Regions from separate parts of the Homo sapiens genome. Here region 1 is linked to region 2. The links come from fine-mapping of genetic effects on gene expression. Tissue or cell type: whole blood. Region 2 holds a variant in brackets; the other region holds the start of a gene. All regions are shown on one strand. Distances are from middle to middle.

Region 1 (7,648 bases), 24 kb after region 2:
GCATCCTCTCCATCCCCATCCCCAGAGGCCTCATTCACCTGTGGGCAGAGGCATCATCAGTGGGCTCAAGGGCAGAACCACGATGAGACTCTGGAGAGCAAGACAGAAGCTCCCAGGGCCTTTGAATTCCCAATACTTGGGATTTCCTTCCCTGAAGTCTTCCCTCTGGGGAAGTCTAGCCAATGGCACTCACATTTCACATTTCTTTTCTCAGAGAAGGCATCTTTTTTTTTTTGAGATGGAGTGTTGCTCTGTTGCCCGGATTGGAGTGCAATGGCGCGATCTTGGCTCACTGCAACCTCCACCTCCTGGGCTCAAACAATTCTCCCGCCACAGCCTCCTGAGTAGCTGGGATTACAGGCGCATGCCACCACATCTGGCTAATTTTTGTATTTTTAGTAGAGATGGGGTTTCACCATGTTGGCCAGGCTGGTCTTGAACTCCCGATCTCAAATGATATGCCTGCCTCAGCCTCCCAAAGTGCTGGGATTACAGGTGTGAGCCACCATGCCCAGCCAGAGAAGGCATCTCCACCCAAATCCTTGTGGCAGTTCTCACACCTTTCTTCCCCAGAATACAAGGCTTCTCAGTTGTCTTCCATTTTAGGCTTACAAGACCTCTGTCAAGTTCTCCCCATTTCAGAAGATGAAAAACAGACCTTGAGTGACTTGCCCAAGGTCACATGAACAGTCAGCATTGAAACAGAAACCAGAACCTAGGTCTCCCAAGTGACTCCTAGCTCGAAGGCTCTCATGACTAACACCTTCAACAGGTGCTGCACACTGAAGACAGCTGGGCTGAGAGAACCAGACAGAATCGCATACAAAAAAACAGAAAACAAGAAACAAAAACAAACAAACAAACAAACAAAAAACAACAAAAAACAAGGCCCAGCGCAGTCGCTCATGCCTATAATCCCAGCACTTTGGGAGGCAGAGGTGGGTGGATCACCTGAGGTCAGGAGTTCAAGACCAGCCTGGCCAACATGGTGAAACCCTGTCTCTACTAAAAATACGAAAATTAGCTGGGCATGGTGGCAGATGCCTGTAATCCCAGCTACTTGGGAGGCTGAGGCAGGAGAATCACTTGAATCCAGAAAGTGGAGGTTGCAGTGAGCCAAGATAGTGCCATTGCACTCCAGCCTGGACAAGAAGAGTGAAACTCCATCTCAAAAAAAAAAAAAAAAAAAAAAAAGGCGGGTGCGGTGGCTCACGCCTGTAATCCCAGCACTTTGGGAGGCAGAGGCAGGCGGATCACCTGAGGTCAGGAGTTCGAGACCAGCCTGGCCAACATGGTGAAACCCCCATCTCTACTAAAAATACAAAAATTAGCTGGGCATGGTGGCGGGGGCCTGTAATCCCAGCTATTGGGCAGGCTGAGGCAGGTAGAATAGCTTGAACTCGGGAGGCAGAGGTTGCAGTGAGCCGAGATCACATCACTGCACTCTAGCCTGGGTGACAGAGAGGAGAGACTCCGTCTCAAAAATAAATAAATAAATAAATAAAAATTTAAAAACCAGATACACACAGAGGCATGGAAGCCTAGGCCAAGGTTCCCTGATCCTCCCAAAGGTGAGAGTTCCTGCTAGTAGTTCTAGGGAACCCCCTTATCTGCCCTGGCTAGGCCTCCTCACTAGTTTCTGGGGAACCCCCATATCTGCTCTGGCTAGGCCTCCTCACTAGTTCCTGGAATGGTCTCCATCTCTCCTCAGCCCCTGCCAGATTGCTGAGCACGTTGGTATTGGAGCAAGCTGTGTGTATCTGTCTCGCCAGAAATATTCCGTAGTCCTGAAGATCAGGGATGGTAACTTTCGTCTCCACATCCCCAGTACCTAGTTTAGTGTCTGGCATGCATGAAAGTGCGTGCGTAGAACTGAATTAACAATTATAATATATTGTTCTCCTGTTACGGCTGAAGTCGCGTAAGGCAGAGATCACATCTCCTACAGTCTCATGTCGTTTCCACGGACAGGGATGAGCGAGACATCTAACATTGACTGGGTTCCTAGTCCCTGTATACATAAATGGATGATGAATGGCTTGGGGAATGTAACATGTGATCTTTAATCTGCAATGCACTCTCCCAGTAGATATTTCTAGTGGAGACATTAGAAAAATTAGAGCTAGATGTGTTCATTGCCTTAATTTCAAAGGCAATCTTGCCGCCTTTCACCGCCCCTCTATGCATTCTAGTGGCGCACTCCCGCCTCCCCGGAGTGATAATGATTGGTATTTTCCAGCCGAGATCCGAAAAAAAAAAATCTGCCTCCGAGGCGATGATTGGTTCACTGCTTCCCGCATCCCACCTCAGGGTTGCCTCCTGGTACCTTCCCGTGTAGGAAAATGATTTTGTCCCGCGCAGACTCCCTCAGCACCTTCTGCAGTCTGAAGCCGGAGAACGGTAAGCGGACAGGAGCACAGGTACCATTTCCAACTCCTGCCTCCTTTTCCTCTGTGCTGGCGGCGTGGGCCTCCTCCACGTCCAATTCGCGCTTCCTCTTGCCTAGTTGAGGAGCTGCGTCCGCCATGCTGCCGCGGAGGCGGTGTGCGCCTGCGCCCCCTGCGCTGGCCCCGCCCCTAGCCCGAGTCCAGCGGCCTGGCTGGGCTGCTAACTCCCGGCCTACCCTGCTCTGGCACCCGCTCCTGCGGGATGCGTGCCGCGCATGGCGGAGCCCGCTGACCTGTCCCAGGGCGCGCCTTTCAACCGAGTTACTGCCTTTGGCCCCGTTGTGGTGCCGGCCGGCCCTCAGGGAAGGGAAAAGAAGGCTGAGAGTCCCGAAAGCGGCGGGCTAGAGGTGGCTGCGCAGTGAAGAGGGACCCCCAGGCCCACGCCCCGGGGTGGGAGCCGAAGACGCCCTTGGGCCACGGTAGTGTTGGAGCCCTTGTTTGAATACTGACATTTTAATCATAGTTACACCGACGTTGACCAATTATCGGGGAAGCAACGTTTCTGACGCAAATCCGTGAGCCCATTTGATTCCTTGGTCGATTTTTTATACCGAGTATTTAAGCCATTTCCATTTTTCTCCCATTTTAATTACTTTGCAGAAATTTTCATCGTGGTCAGTTTTTTACTTTGTAGACTCAGTACTTTTCTGCTGACAAAAAAGGTAAACGAATATGGCCAGAAGAACCATCTCCACCACCCACTTATTTCCGGGCTAGAGGCATCCCCCTCCTCTCTATTTTGTTTACCTGTATTTCTGCCCTGCTACCCAGGGATATGATTTGCAGTATGATTCGTCTCCCAGGGTTTCGTTTCTCTTTTTTTTTTTTTTTTTTTTTTTTTTTGCCATATAAAATTATTACTTGTAACTTCTGCTGTTGAGGGTTTCTTTGGTGACCATTGTTTCTGGTTAGCCCGTTTTTCACTGGTGTTATTTAACAGATCTAAATTTTGTGAAGAGTTGGTACTTACGGACAGGCGCGGTGGCTCACGCCTGTAATTCCAGCACTTCGAGAGGTCGAGGTGGACGGATCACGAGGTTAAGATACCGAGACCATCCTGGCCAACATGGTGAAACCCCGTCTCTACTAAAAATACAAAAATTACCCGGGCGTGGTGGCCCGCGCCTGTAGTCCCAGCTACTCGGGAGGCTGAGGCAGGAAAATCGCTTGAACGCGGGCGGAGTATTGTAGTGAGCCGAGATCGCACCACTGCACTCCACCCTGGCGACAGAGCGAGACTACGTCTCAAAGAAAAAAAAAAAGAGTTGGTACTTACATCGCTTCAGTCAGCCACACATTTATTTTGCCAGTGATTTGAGTTTAGGTTTTCAGACAGATCTCATGGGTGTGGGACAGTTTTTGCCATTCTCAACGTTAGCAACAAGATGCAATTTACAGTCAGTTTTTGGTCAATAACAAAGTGTACCATGTGTTAGTTTGATTTTTGGATTACTTCTACCAGAAATATAGATTAGGAGTTGGATAAAAGACTACTTTAGGCCAGGCGCGGTGGCTCATGCCTGTAATCCCAGCACTTTGGGAGGCCGAGGTGGGCGGATCACGAGGTCAGGAGATCGAGACCATCCTGGCTAACGTGGTGAAACTCCGTCTCTACTAAAGATACAAAAAAATTAGCCAGGCGTGGTGGCGGGCGCCTGTAGTCCCAGCTACTTGGGAGGCTGAGGCAGGAGAATGGCGTGAACCCGGGAGGCGGAGCTTGCAGTTAGCTGAGATCGCGCCACTGCACTCCAGCCTGGGTGACAGAGCGAGACTCCATCTCAAAAAAAAAAAAAAAAAAAAAGGACTACTTTGTGTGTGTGTGTGTGTGTGTGTGTGATGCAGAAAGCATTATTAGGAGAGACTTAGGATCTGTCCCCCAGGCTGGAGTGCAATGGCGCGATCTCGGCTCACTGCAACCTCTGCCTCCAGGTTCAAGCGATTCTCCTGCCTCAACTTCCTGAGTAGCTGGTATTACAGGCGGCTGCTACCACTCCCGGCTAATTTTTTGTATTTTTAGTAGAGTCAGGGTTTCACCATGTTGGCCAGGCTGGTCTCGAACTCCTGACCTCGTGATCCGCCCGCCTGGGCCTCCCAAAGAGCTGGCATTACAGGCGTGAGCCACCGCACCCTGCCAAAGTAGCTATGTTTTAACAAAAAGAGCCCATAATTGAGAGCCATGAAGTCGGGCCCCAACACTGACTAGCTGTGCAACTTTGGAAAAGTCTCTTAACCTTTCCAGGTCTCCATTTTCCATGTGCCAGCGGCTATTAGTTCTAAGCAAGACAACGAGGCCTCTTCTTTCATAAAATGTATATTCAAATGGGGTACATGAGGTAAACAAGATAATGATTAAGAACTGTTTTTTGTTTTTTGTTTTTTGTTTTTTTTTGAGACGGAGTCTCCCTCTGTCGCCCAGGCTGGAGTGCAGTGGTGCGATCTCGGCTCACTGCAAGCTCCACCTCCCAGGTTCACGCCATTCTCCTGCCTCAGCCTCCCAAGTAGCTGGGACTACAGGGGCCTACCACCACGCCTGGCTAATTTTTTGTATTTTTAGTAGAGACGGGGTTTCACCGTGTTAGCCAGGATGGTCTCAATTTCCTGACCTCGTGATCTGCCCGCCTCAGCCTCCCAAAGTGCTGGGATTACAGGCGTGAGCCACCGTGCCCGGCCAAGTACTGTTAATAGGACAAAACTGGACAGTGTGAAAGAGCCTGGGGATAGGAGCCCCCCCCCCCCGCCCTTTTTTTTCTTTCTTTGAGACAGAGTCTCACTCTGTCACCCAGGCTGGAGTACAGTGGTGCAATCTTGGCTCACTGCAACCTTCACCTCCCAGGTTCAAGCGACTCTTCTGCCTCAGCCTTCTAAGTAGCTGGGATTACAGGCGTACACTAGCACACCTGGCCAATTTTTGTATTTTTAGTAGAGATGGGGTTTTGCCATGTTGGCCAGGCTGGTCTCAAACTCCTGACCTCAGGTGACCTGCCCATCTCCCAAAGTGTTGGGATTACAGGCATGAGCCACCATGCTCGGCCAAGCTCTTTAGATAAGATGATCATGGACAGCCTCTCAAAAGGTGACATTTGAGCTGAGACTTGAATGATGAGAAGGAACCAGCCATATCAGCCATATGAAGAGCCCAGGCACAGTAAATATTAGCTGTCAAAGGCCCTAGAGCAGTAATGTGCTTGACATTTTTAAAAAATAGGAATGACCGTGGGGCATGGTGGCTTACACCTGTAATCCCAGCACTTTGGGAGGCTGAGGTGGGCGGATCACTTCAGATCAGGAGCTCGAGACCAGCCTGGCCAACATGGTGAAACATAGTCTGTACTAAAAATACAAAAATTAGCTGGGTGTGGTGGTGTGCGCCTGTAATCCCAGCTACCTGGGAGGCTGAGGCAGGAGAATCACTTGAACTCAGGAGGTGCAGGTTGCAGTGAGCCAAGGTCGCGCCACTGCACTTCAACCTGGGTGACAGAGCAAGACTCTGTCTCAAAAGGAATGACCTGTGTAGCTAAAATATAATGAGCAAAATAGAAACATTTGAAATGAAATAGTAGAGAAATGTATTCATTAGCGGCAAAATTAATCAATATGGGTATAATTTTGATTAAAATATAAAACCAGAATTCTACTCTTCAAAAAGGCCTGGCTCATGCCCCACGTGGTGGCTCATACCTGTAGTCCCAGCTACTTAGGAGGCTGAGGTGGGAGGACCACTTGAGCCCAGAAGTTTGAGGCTGCAGTGAGCTATAATCACACCACTGCCCTCCAGCCTGGGCAAGAGAGCGAGGCTTTGTCTCTTAAAAAAAAAGAATGCCAAGGAAAGGATGAGCTCATAGGAAGCCTCAGCTACCAGAGGTTCTATTAAATACCAGACCTCAGTGTGAAAGGAATCTTTATGGTAGTAGTTAAAATTCATTTCCTCAGTTACACTAGCCACTTTGCAAGTGCTTGATATCCACTTGTGGCTATCGTATGAGCACAGATGGAGAACATTTTCATTATCAAAGGAAGTTCTACTAGACAATGCTGTATTAGCTTACTCATTTATTATAAAGCCCTGTTCAATTGTTTTTCAGAAATCTTAAAATTTCTCCCACGCAAGGTGCGGTGGCTCACGCCTGTAATCCCAGCACTTTGGGAGGCCAAGGCGGGTGGATCACTTGAGGTCAGGAGTTTGAGACTAGCCTGGCTAACATGGCGAAACCCCATCTCTATTAAAAATACAAAAATTAGCTGAGTGTGGCAGCAGGCACCTATAATTCCAGCTACTCGGGAGGCTGAGGCAGGAGAATGGCTTGAACCTGGAGGCGGAGGTTGTAATGAGCCAAGATTGCACCACTGTGCTCCAGCCTGAGTGACAGAGCGAGACTCTGTCTCAAAAAAAAAAAAAAAAAAAAACCTCCCAAATCTTTTCTTTTTTAGTCTAAAGAAGGATTGGATACTTCCCAGTTCCATTTCAGGGATTATAACAGACTAAACTGAAAACAAGTCAGCTACAAAATACCCGAACATTCTGGATGTAAAATTTAAAACATTCTTTTAGTTACGTTGCTGAGCTCTCAAAAAAGTAAAATTTGCAGGAACCAAAAATGATGTGGGAGTTTGAATCTATAGAGTGGTAAGGGGATTTTTAAGGTGGAAGCTATTTTAAGGGCCATTGCTGATCTCTAGACGTCTAGGACCCGATTCAAGGGACAAGAGACAAGACCTGAGCTTATGTAAAGAGGAATTAAGATACAGAACTTTCTATAGAGCTAAGAACCCTGAAGGTCCACTAGCTCAATGAAGGGGCCAACAATTTTTTTTTTTTTTTTTTTTTTTTGGATACGGAGTCTCACTCTGTCGCCCAGGCTGGAGTACAGTGGCGCGATCTCAGCTCACTGCAACCTCCGCTGCCTGGATTCAAGCGATTCTCATGCATCAGCCTCCTGAGTAGCTGGGATTACAGGCACCCACCACCACGCATAGCTAATTTTTTTGTATTTTTAGTAGAGACGGAGTTTCGCCACGTTGGTCAGGCTGGTCTCGAACTCCTGACCTTGGGTGATCTGCTCGCCTTGGCCTCCCAAAGTGCTAGGATTATAGGCGTGAGCCACCATGCCTGGCCAGGCCAACTATTTATAAAAAAGAAAAATGCTGCCCTACTAAAGGAGAGAAGGTGATTAGGAAACTTGCCTGCTTCAACCGTTGTTCCA
Region 2 (10,703 bases):
ATCTTGGGGAGAAAAGTGAGAAATGCTCGAAGAGAACAAGGGTGAGTGATAAAGACAAGGCACAGTGTCAGAGTCAGTGAGTGGGCAAGAAACTGACTCATCAATAAGCATCAGTCATATTTAACTCTGAGTACTCACATGGGGCCAGTTCCAGGCAGAGGCTCCAGTTGGCGCTGGGCCTAGGCCCAGGGAGGAGTCAGGATCTTGGAGCTAAATGGCCTTGCATCTGGCCTGGCCAGACGACTGCCAGCTTGTGAATGGAGTCCCTGCACCAAATCCCCGGGGCCAATGGGGTCCTGCCTTCTTTTGGACGAATGCAAGGGGGAGTCGGTGAGGGAAGAGTTTTTCCTCTGAGACTGAGATCCTGCAGGCCGGTTTGCCGCAGGTGAAACCAGGAATAAGAGTCTGGACAGGGTGGGACTCACTCAACATCAGCCTTTTACCCATTCATGGACCCAAAGCAATGGCACAGTCATCCCGAGGCTGGATCAAGGCTACTGCAGAGCAGACACACATTCTTCCAAAGGACTGGATTGCTTTGAGGTCCCCAGAGAGCCTCCATGGCATGCCCAAGCACATCAGGTGGGACCAAGACCAGCATCAGTTCCCCCACCCCCAAAGCCTTCTCTCGCCATGCGATATAAAATGGCAATTGCCCGCCCCAGGCCTTCTGGTCCCACTTATCCTGTCTATTTCTCTCTGCAGCCCTCATTATCTCACAGAGCACATAGATCCTGAGATATCTGTGTATGGTCACACACCGTGTGACTGTGCATGGGATGTAAGCTGCACGAGGTGGGGATTCTGTCCGCCATGCTCTCTACTGTACCCCCATCCCCTCGCCCAGCACAGCGCCTGGCCCCTAATATGACCCCAATAGACACTCGTAAGAGGAGGCACCAGCCACGGGAGCAGTGCTCTGCGTCTGAGACATGCAGCCAGTCACCTGGATGCTGAGGCTCTGGGACTCCAGGTGGGGTAAAGTAATATTCCTGTAGTCATCTCCCGTCTCTCGGATCAGGCGGAGGTCCTGGCGCAGGTACTTCTGCAGGTGTTTCTCTGTGGCAGGGTAAACCACGGTCGTCTTTACATCTGCAATGATACAGCACAGCCCGTGACAGGGAAGCAATGCCCACTCTCTATGCCACAGGCACCACGGTGAGGAGAGAACTCCCACCCTGGCTTTGATTCCCTGAGGGAAGCCAAAATCCAAGAGGATCATGCACCCAAGATCCACTCCCACAGAGTGCCTTGTGCCACTGCATTCACGAGCTGAGCCACACTCAGAATCTGGAAAACACAAGGTTCTTACCTGTGGGTCACTGGGCCCCTCATCAGGCAAACCCCAGCCCTTCCTGCTCCATCTTCCAGGCACAGGAATGAGAGGTCTCTAACTCTTCTCACATACCAAATTTCTAGGTATGTGGCTTTCTGGACCCAAAGCTGAAAATATGGCTTAAAGGCCGGGCGCAGTGGCTGACGCCTGTAATCCCAGCACTTTGGGAGGCCGAGGCAGGCGGATCACCTGAGGTCAGGAGTTCGAGACCAGCCTGACCAACGTGGAGAAACCCCATCTCTACTAAAGATACAAAATTAACCGGGCGTGGTGGCGCATGCCTGTAATCCCAGCTACTCAGGAGGCTGAGGCGGGAGAACCACTTGAACCTGGGAGGCAGAGGTTGCAGTGAGCCCAGATTGCACCATTGCACTCCTGCCTGGGCAACAAGAGTGAAACTCTATCTCAAAAAAAAAAAAAAAAAAAAAAAAAAAAAAAAAATATATATATATATATATATATATATATATATGGTTTAAAGCCCAGTAGTCCCCTTAATGATGGGCAGTGCAGCAGAGCGCAGTGGTTCCAGGCACAGACTCTGCAGCCAGACTGAGTTCAAGTCCTGGCTCTGCCTGCTCCTTATTCTGAATGGGACCTTGGCCCCACCCGGGAGCACGGTTCAGCTGTTTAACCTCTTGGTGCCCCTACTTCTTCATCTGCCAAATGAGGATAGTAAAAGCTCCTGTGTCATAAGGCTGGGAGGATTAAACAAGTCAATTACCTGTGAAGTTCTTAAAACAATGTCTGGCACACAGTAAACACCACATAAGTGCTGTGATGTTTAATCCAGGGTTTCTCAATCTCAGCACCACTGACATTTTGGCCTGGATAATTCTGTTGCAGGGGCTGTCCTGTGCATTGAAGGATGTTCAGCTGCATCCCTGTGGCCTCTGTTGGGATGTTAGTAGCACCCTCCCCAAGTTGTGACAACCCAAAATGTCTCCAGACATTGCCAATGTGTCCCCTGAAAGGAAAAAGTGTCCCCAGGTGAGAAGCACAGTTTTAAACTAGAAGGATGTCTTGCAGTTTTCCTAAACAGACTCTAGGCTAGCTTCCTGGTCCAAAACCACCTGGTTTTGGTTAAGTCCTTTCCTTTATTTTTAAAAACATCTGGTACAATTGTCATCATTACTCTAACATGTATACATTGTGTTTTAACATAGATCTTAGGGGTATTTCCAAATCAGCTTGGATCTTTCTCAAAAGACCCATGGTTCCCTCTGACTTTCTTAATCTGGGTTCGGATAGGCTCTCCCAGGGAAACCCGAGAGAGCTGAAAACCCAGCGGGCACATTTCACCACCACGAAGTCCTCATACTCACTCACACACCGCAAAACCCGGCTAAGAACTATCAACCTATACTTTCATATTTGGTCTGAGGTCATAGGTGGTTTTAACCCCGCTTTCATACGTCAGTGAAGAGGGTGGGCTGGGACTCAAAAGAGTCATCCAGTATCACACCGTGAAACGTGGCAGAGGCGAACCTGGAACTGAGGCCATCTCACCCTAAAGCCAGTGCTCCTGCAACACCACAGGCTACTTCCAATTTCTACTTCCAAGTCCCAGTGGGGATGCACAGAGATGACATACCAGGCACGTGGCTTCTGTCCCATCAAACATCCCAGGCCCTCAGCTCTGGGTGGCACAGCAGCACAGTGGGAAGACATGGCCACTGGCCCCAGGCTGGCCACATGACTCTCCATACTGGCTGTGTACCCTTGGGCATGGGGCTTAACGTCTTAGAGCCTTGGCTTCCTCACCTATTAAAGGGTGGTCATCAAATCTGCCTCACAGAGTTGTTTACATTCAATAAAACGTGTCAGCTGGATCACGAGTTGCTAAATAAATGTCACCCAATCCTGGGAATCCCCGGATCTGACCCTGAAAAAGGGGCATGAAGGCCTCCTCACAACTCTCTGAGGAGCAGCAAAAGACTCTTTCTTGCTTCTCACTCTGTTCTCTAACAGCTCAGCGTCATAGGTCATGGGCCAGAGGTCAGAGGTCAGGCACACCAAGATCTCAAGAGGCGGGAGACTGCTTGAAGTAGACTGAACGGCACCACCTTGGCCCTTGCAGTGGACCTGAGGGAAATCCATACATCTGCAGTGGAGCTTGGTGGATGAGAACAGAGATTTTGGAGCCAGTCAGCCTGGGTGCAAGTCCTGGCTCTGCACTTATTAGTGGCGTAACCTCAGGCTAGTGACTGACACTGTCTGTGGCTTCAGTCTCCTGACTTCTACAATCTGGGGTAACAATAACAGCACCTACCTTCCAGGGCTGTTGGGAGAATTAAACGAGTCAGTAGAAGGAAAGATTCAGGAAGTGCCTCACATGGAGAAAAGCGCTCCCCCCAGGCTAGCTTGGATTCTCTCCGCTGTTGCCTCCGTTGCCTGGGTTGGGCAGTGGAGCTCCCTGAGAGTGGGGGAGAGATGGGCAGGGCACAGAGGCAGAGCGGGCGCTGGAGAGCAGCCGGGTTCTGCGGGCAGGGTCACCCAGCCGGGCTCCCAGCCTGGGGCTCCTGGCTGCTCCAGATCAGAAAGCCACCCGGCCTGTGAGCATGCCCTGGTCTGCCGAGGCCTGTGGGAGACCTGCCCCAGCCACCCAGGGTGCAGGGAAACTGGCGTCTCACCCAGCCAGCCCCTCCCGCCTCCCCTCAGCAGCAAGAGCATCCACAGGTGCTTATTTTCCAACTGCTCACTTCCTGCCATCCTCCTGCCTTTCCTGAGGTGCACCTGCAGGGATGGGAACCTGACTGCAGGACTCTCAGAGCTCCCCACGTCCCCCTAGAGCACTCACTCCTAAGGGGCCTGGCTTCCCTCAGGTCTCCACCGAAAGCCTCAGTCAGGGCCACACTGAGGTGGGAGCTGCCACCCTCAAACTGTCCCCTGCTCCACAGCTCCCGCGCTTCCTGCCGTGGACTACGAGGCTGTTGGTCACCTCGCCCTGGCCCTCTTTCCACCTTCATGCACTGCCTCTCTCCCGCTTAGGGCCTCTGCTCCAGCCGCGCCGGCTCCCCACTGACCCACTAACTCGCGTCAGCCATGGGCTCCTCTCCAGGCCGTGCCCTGGCCGCTCCCACGGCCGAGCTGACCCTCCTACCCAACGAGCCACGCTGCTCCTCGCTTCATCCAGGCCTCTGCTCTGAGGCCAGCTCCTCAGGCTCGGTCAGCTCTGGTAAAACAGCAGCCCTAACCTCGGGGTCCTCTGTCTCCTCCACCAGCTTGCTTCCTCTTCACTTCTCACTCCCTCACAGCAGCAGGTGGATGGACTGTCTGACTCCCCAACTACTATGCAGCTTCCGGAAGAAAACAATTTGTCCCCAGCACCTGGAATAGTGCCTGGCATACAGTAAGCACTCAGTAAATACTTAGTGAACAAATGAATCAATGAATCTGGCCTTTTCGACTTAAACCCAGGAAGAGCATTTTTGTCCCAGATGAAATAAAACCTCTCTGATACAAATCAATATATTTCCTAATGCTAAGGTTTACGATGGCAGCCAAAAAACAATGAACGCTGGTGTTTACCTCAATGCCCGTCAAGATGTTGACCTGCAGCTGAACTTCAGGAGGAGTTTGGTCAGGAGTCAATGCTCAATAAACAATCAAACCATCAGGTGAAAACACGTTGGGAAACACGATACACAGGCACAGTCTCAAAAATATCTCCCATAGATTACTTATTAATTACAAAGGGAACACGAGTCGCTTTACAGCAGCAAAAGGCTACCACCTCGGCCAGGCCATGGGCGTCACCGTCACCCCTGCTGGGCACGCCGACATCATGTGCCTCCTGATCATGTGGAATTCTGGCCAAAAACGCATAACCTGAGTCCAGTCATGAGGAAATATCAGCAAACCAAAATCCAGGGGCATTCAACAAAACTAGTGGCTTTATAACACTACAAAAATGTCAAAGTTAGGAAGGACAAAGAAGGCTGAGGAATTGCTCCAGATGAAGGGAGACTAAAGAGACGGGACTAAAGGGATTGGATTAGATCCGGGGTTGGGATCCGGGGAGGGGCGCCCTGCACTGAAGCAACTGGCACAACTTAACTATGGACTGTATGTCACAGAAGTCTCATACGAATGGGAAATCTCCTGAAATTAATAATTTTACCCTTTTTTATATCCATCGTTATCATTATTCTACGTATATGTGGAGACAGAAAAAGCCAATGTGGCAAATGTTAACAGGTGAAGTCCTTTTATTTTGTTTTTTGTTTTTTTTTTTTGAGACAGAGTCTCGCTCTGTCGCCCAGGCTGGAGTGCAGTGGCGTGATCTCGGCTCACTGCAAGCTCCGCCTCCCGGGCTCACGCCATTCTCCTGCCTCAGCCTCCTGAGTAGCTGGGACTACAGGCGCCTGCCACCACGCCTGGCTAATTTTTTGTATTTTTAGTAGAGACAGGGTTTCACCGTGTTAGCCAGGATGGTCTCGATCTCCTGACTTCGTGATCCACATGCCTCGGCCTCCCAAAGTGCTGGGATTACAGGCGTGAGCCACTGCGCCCGGC[C/T]GTGAAGTCCTTTTATAAGGGAGTTCTTTGTACTATTCTTACAACTTTTCTGCAGGATTGGAATTTTTTTTAGTAGGAAAATTTTTTTTAAGGTGTCAATACCTTTCGGAACCTCAGCCCTATAACACTATTCTAAGCCTGACACGCAAAAATGAACTCATTTACTCCTTATGACCAACATGAACGGGTATTATTATGATTGCATTTTACATATGAGGAAACTGAGGCCCAGGGCCTGGAGTGGCCCCCAAGGACCCACAGCCCCGTGTGGTGCTCAGGGCCGGGACCCACACTGGCAGCCCCATCTGCCCACGGCAGGTCAGCAGAAGAGGCCCGGTGGCCTTGCCAGGCTCTCCCTGCCATACGCTGTCTGGCAAGTGGACTGAGGGCACCGCCTGCTCAGGATGAGTGATACCTGGCAACACCCCTGCCCAGAGCTCTTCCTGGTAGCCAGAGAACTGACCAACTCCCCAGTCCCACCCTCCTGCTGGGATTCTCATTATTTATTTATTTATATGTATTTTTTGAGATGGAATCTTGCTCTGTCACCAGGCTGGAGTGCAGTGGTGCAATCTTGGCTCACTGCAACCTCCGCCTCCTGGGTTTCAGCGATTCTCCTGCCTCAGCGTCCCCAGTAGCTAGGATTACAGGCCCACGCCACCACGCCTGGCTAATACTTGTATTTTTAGTAGAGACAGGGTTTCACCAAGTTGGCCAGGATGGCCTCGATTTCCTGATCTCGTAATCCGCCCACCTCAGCCTCCCAAAGTGCTGGGATTACAGGTGTGAGCCACCGCGCCTGGCCTTCCTGCTGGCATTCTCCAAACACAGCCTGGGATAACCATAAACCCTCAAAAATCTATCCCTGGAAAATCTTCACAATATATTAAGAGCACCTCCAACACTCCTTACAGAGTTCCCCTGTCATGCTTTTTAACACTGTGTTTGTCTTTTTAATTCAAATTGTACTTGCATATATGTCAAAGAGTCAAATGAAGCTTGTTTTCAAAAACACTTTTCTGCTCCTCCCTGCTCCCAATTTCCAGCTCCTTCAAAGGCACCACTTTCAACACTTCTGGCCACCTCTTTGGTTATATACTTCCAGAATTCTAAATTATACTTTTATATCTTGTTCCTACTTGACTTTTAACTTCTACTATTACTTACTGACTTCTCATTAAGGAAGATGAGAATTTATCTCTTTTTACCATCCCTTCACCAAATGCACACACATGCACAAACACACACATATACACAGATACTTCCTAACCCTCAACCTCACAGTACAACTTTACCACAATTTTTGATAAATCAGTATTCAACACTGATGCTATGATGATGATGTAAATGCTGTTCACTGCCATAGTTACTGTGATTATTTTCTTCTCTTCAGCATAATTTTTGGTGTATGGAATAAGTCATTACATTTTTACTGTTTAATTTTTTTTCTTTTTTCGAAACTGAGTCTCACTGTGTCTCCCAGGCTGGAGTGCAATGGCACGATCTTGGCTCACTGCAACCTCCACCTCCTGGGTTCAAGCGATTCTCGTGCCTCAGCAACCCGAGTGAGTAGCTGGGATTACAGGTGCCCACCACCATGCCCCGCTAATTTTTGTATTTTTAGTAGAGATAGGGTTTCACCATGTTAGTCAGGCTGGTCTCGAACTCCTGACCTCAGGTGATCCACCCGCTTCGGCCTCCCAAAATTCTGGGATATAGGTGTGAGCCACCGTGCCCAGCCAGAGAAGGCATCTCCACCCAAATTCTGGCCACTTGTTTAATTTTCTATAAACATGTCACTAATTCATCCCCAAATCCACTTCCCTGTTTACATAAATCTCCTCTTATGTGTTAAACTCATCAGGCAAGCCAGGCACAGTGGCTCATGCCTATAGTCCCAGCAATTTGGGAGGCCAAGGCAGGGAGATTGCTTGAGACCATGGATTTGTGACTAGCCTGAGCAACATAGTGAGATCCCGTCTTTACCAAAAAAAAAAAAAAAAAAAAAAAAAAGGCAGAAAAATTAGCTAGGCATGGTGGTGCATGCCTGTAGTCCCAGCTACTCAGAAGGCTGAAGTGGGAGATCCCTTGAGCTGCGAAACGGAGGTTGTGATGAGCGCAGATCTCGCCACTGCACTCCAGCCTAGGGGACAGAGTGAGACCCTGTCTAAAAAAAAAAACTCAACAGGCACATGAACAATGTGTCTTCCCAGAACTTCCGGTTGCCACCCCCAGAAGTAATTCTCAAACTTTAGTGTGGCATTATTATTATTATAAATCCAATTCTTGGAATTTTCATTAGGAAAACTGTGAAAATATTTTCAATTCTCTGAAATAATTTACCAAGTAGATCAGCAGATAGGTATTCAAATTTCCACCAGAGCATAAAACAGAAATCATTATGCACAATTATTTGTCAGTTAAAAATAAAATTTAAACATTATACTAAAAAAAAATTTTGCTACTGCAATCTGTTATGTGAATACAATAACTGTAGAAATACAACTTTAGGGCTGGGTGCAGTGGCTCACACCTGTAATCCCAGTACTTTGGGAGGCCAAGGCGGACGGATCACCTGAGGTCAGAAGTTCAAGACCAGCCTGGCCAATATGGTGAAACCCCATCTCTACAAAAACACAAAAAAATTAGCCAGGCATGGTGGCTTGCTTCTGTAATCCCAGATACTCGGGAGGCTGAGGCGGAAGAATCGCTTGAACCTGGGAGGTAGAGGTTGCGGTGAGCCGAGATGGCGCCACTGCACTCTAGTCTGGGCAACAGAGCAAGACACCATCTCAAAAAACAAACAAAAAAACAACTTTAGGGTCAGGTTTGGTGGCTCATGCCTATAATCCTAGCACTTTGGATCACCTGAGCCCAGGAGTTCGAGACCAGCCTGGGCAACATGGCAAAACCCTATCTCTACAAAAAATACAAAAATTAGCTGGGTGTGATAGCACATGCCTGTAGTCCCAGCTACTCTGGTGGCTGAGGTGGTGGGAGGATCGCTTGAGCCTGGAAGGTCAAGGCTGCAGTGAGCTGTGATCGTGCCACTGCGCTCCAGCCTGGGTGACTGAGCAAGACCCTGTCTCAAAAAAAAAAAAGAAAAGAAAGAAATGCAACTTTAATACATTTAGAATTGTTTGAATGCCTTACTTGTTCAAAGAACTTTCTGCATCATGTGTATTTTTTTAACCATTAAAGTACACCTGCTTTGAAAAATACATGCATCAGCTTGCATATATAATATTACAATGGAAATAAACACAATGTTTCTAAAGCTGAACTTTCTACCGCTCAAGGTAAAACAATAATTGTATTTTGAAAATTGTTTCCCAGATAAGAGGATTAAAAAGGTCTCTTGTAACTATTGGTAACAGTACAGAATTATCAAATTTGTAAACTGTGAATCACAAACTCAAGTTGTGCCCAGAGACATGGTGCAAGCAAGATATATTTTGAGACTTGAAACATCTGAAAATATATTTATTCTACTGTCACACTTAGGAATTTGGTGGCTGGGTGTGGTGGCTCATGCCTGTAATCCCAACACTTTGGGAGGCTGAAACAGGGGGGAAATCTATTGAGCCCAGGAGTTCGAGACCAGCCTGCGCTACATGGCAAGACCCCATCTCTACAAAAAATAATAAATTAGCCACGTGTGGTGGTACCTGCCTCTGGTCGCCACTACTCGGGAAGGTGAAGTGGGAGAATCACTTGAACTCGGGAGTTTGAGGCTGCCATGAGCTATGACTGTACCACTGGACTCCAACCTGGCAACAAAGTGAGACATTGTCTCAAAAAAATTTTTTTGCTTCTTGCTAAAGAATTTTAGGATAGACTGGCCAACATGGTGAAACCCCGTCTCTACTAAAAATAAAAAAAATTAGCTGGGCGTGATGGCACGCGCCTGTAGTCCCAGCTACTCAGGAAGCTGAGGCAGGAGAATCACTTGAACCTCGGAGGCGGAGGTTGCAGTGAGCCGAGATTGTGCCACTGCACTCCAGCCTGGCAACGCAGTGAGACTTCGTCTCAAAAAAAAAAAAAAAGGAATTTTAGGATAGAAAGAAAATCTGAATGCTGGCTGGGCATAGTGGCTAACACCTGTAATCCCAGCCCTTTCGGAGGTTCAGGCAGGCAGATCACCTGAGGTCAGGAGTTCAAGACCAACTTGGCCAACATGGCGAAACCCCATCTCTACTAAAAATACAAAAATGAGCCGGGCGTGGTGGTGTGCGCCTGTAATCCCAGCTACTAGAGAGAATGAGACAGGAGAATTGCTTGAACCCAGGAGACGGAGGTTGCAGTGAGCCAAGATGGCACCAATGCACTCCAGCCTGGGCGACAAAGTGAGACTCTGTCTCAAAAAAATAAAAATAAATAAAAATAAGAAGATCTGAATGCTGTTGTTGTGGAGTCTGAGATCATTATGATGCCCAGTTCTTTGTGACCTGTTTTCTTCTGTCTCCAATGCCCTGATGGTGTGGTTGGATCTCAAAGTGGTTTTATCTTCATCCATTGTGCTAGGTAATTGCTGAGCCCTTTCAATCTTAAAAATCATGTTCTTCAGACCTGGGAAACTGTCTTGAATTATTTCTTTAAAGACCTTTCTTCTTCATTTTCTCTGCCTTTTCTTTCTGCAACACCCATTTGGATATTTAACTTCTTGGATTCAGCGTCTGACTTTCTTATCTTTTCTCCATCTTCCATCTCTTTTGTCTTTGTGCTCAACTTTTAAGGAAGTTTTCTTCACAACTTCATCTTCTACTCTTCTATTTTTTTAATTTTCCATTTCTGCTGTATCTTTAATTTCCAAGAGCTTTAATAAAATTCCTTATTGATAATATTCTTA

The links. PIP is the estimated chance that this variant, and not a neighbour inherited with it, causes the effect.
Region 1: it holds the start of DCPS, and the variant in region 2 is fine-mapped to the expression of DCPS in whole blood (INTERVAL, PIP above 0.99). The same link has a PIP of 0.9 or more in fibroblasts.

What each region holds. Positions count from the first base shown.
Region 1 is chr11:126,298,960-126,306,607 of GRCh38, reverse strand. DCPS (decapping enzyme, scavenger) reads right to left here and starts at 2,548. Exons shown (of 6, transcript NM_014026.6): 1 at 2,327-2,548; 2 at 1-38. The coding sequence starts at 2,527. It overlaps TIRAP-AS1 (TIRAP antisense RNA 1), which reads left to right and starts at 2,286. Exons shown (of 2, transcript NR_187388.1): 1 at 2,286-2,420. RefSeq lists an enhancer at 513-802 and a silencer at 2,461-2,590.
Region 2 is chr11:126,321,794-126,332,496 of GRCh38, reverse strand. It overlaps DCPS (decapping enzyme, scavenger), which reads right to left. Exons shown (of 6, transcript NM_014026.6): 3 at 947-1,092. Among named protein-coding and RNA genes, the nearest start is that of TIRAP-AS1, 23 kb to the right of the region's middle. RefSeq lists enhancers at 3,389-4,111, 4,112-4,836. The variant C/T (reference allele first, on the strand shown) is at 5,855.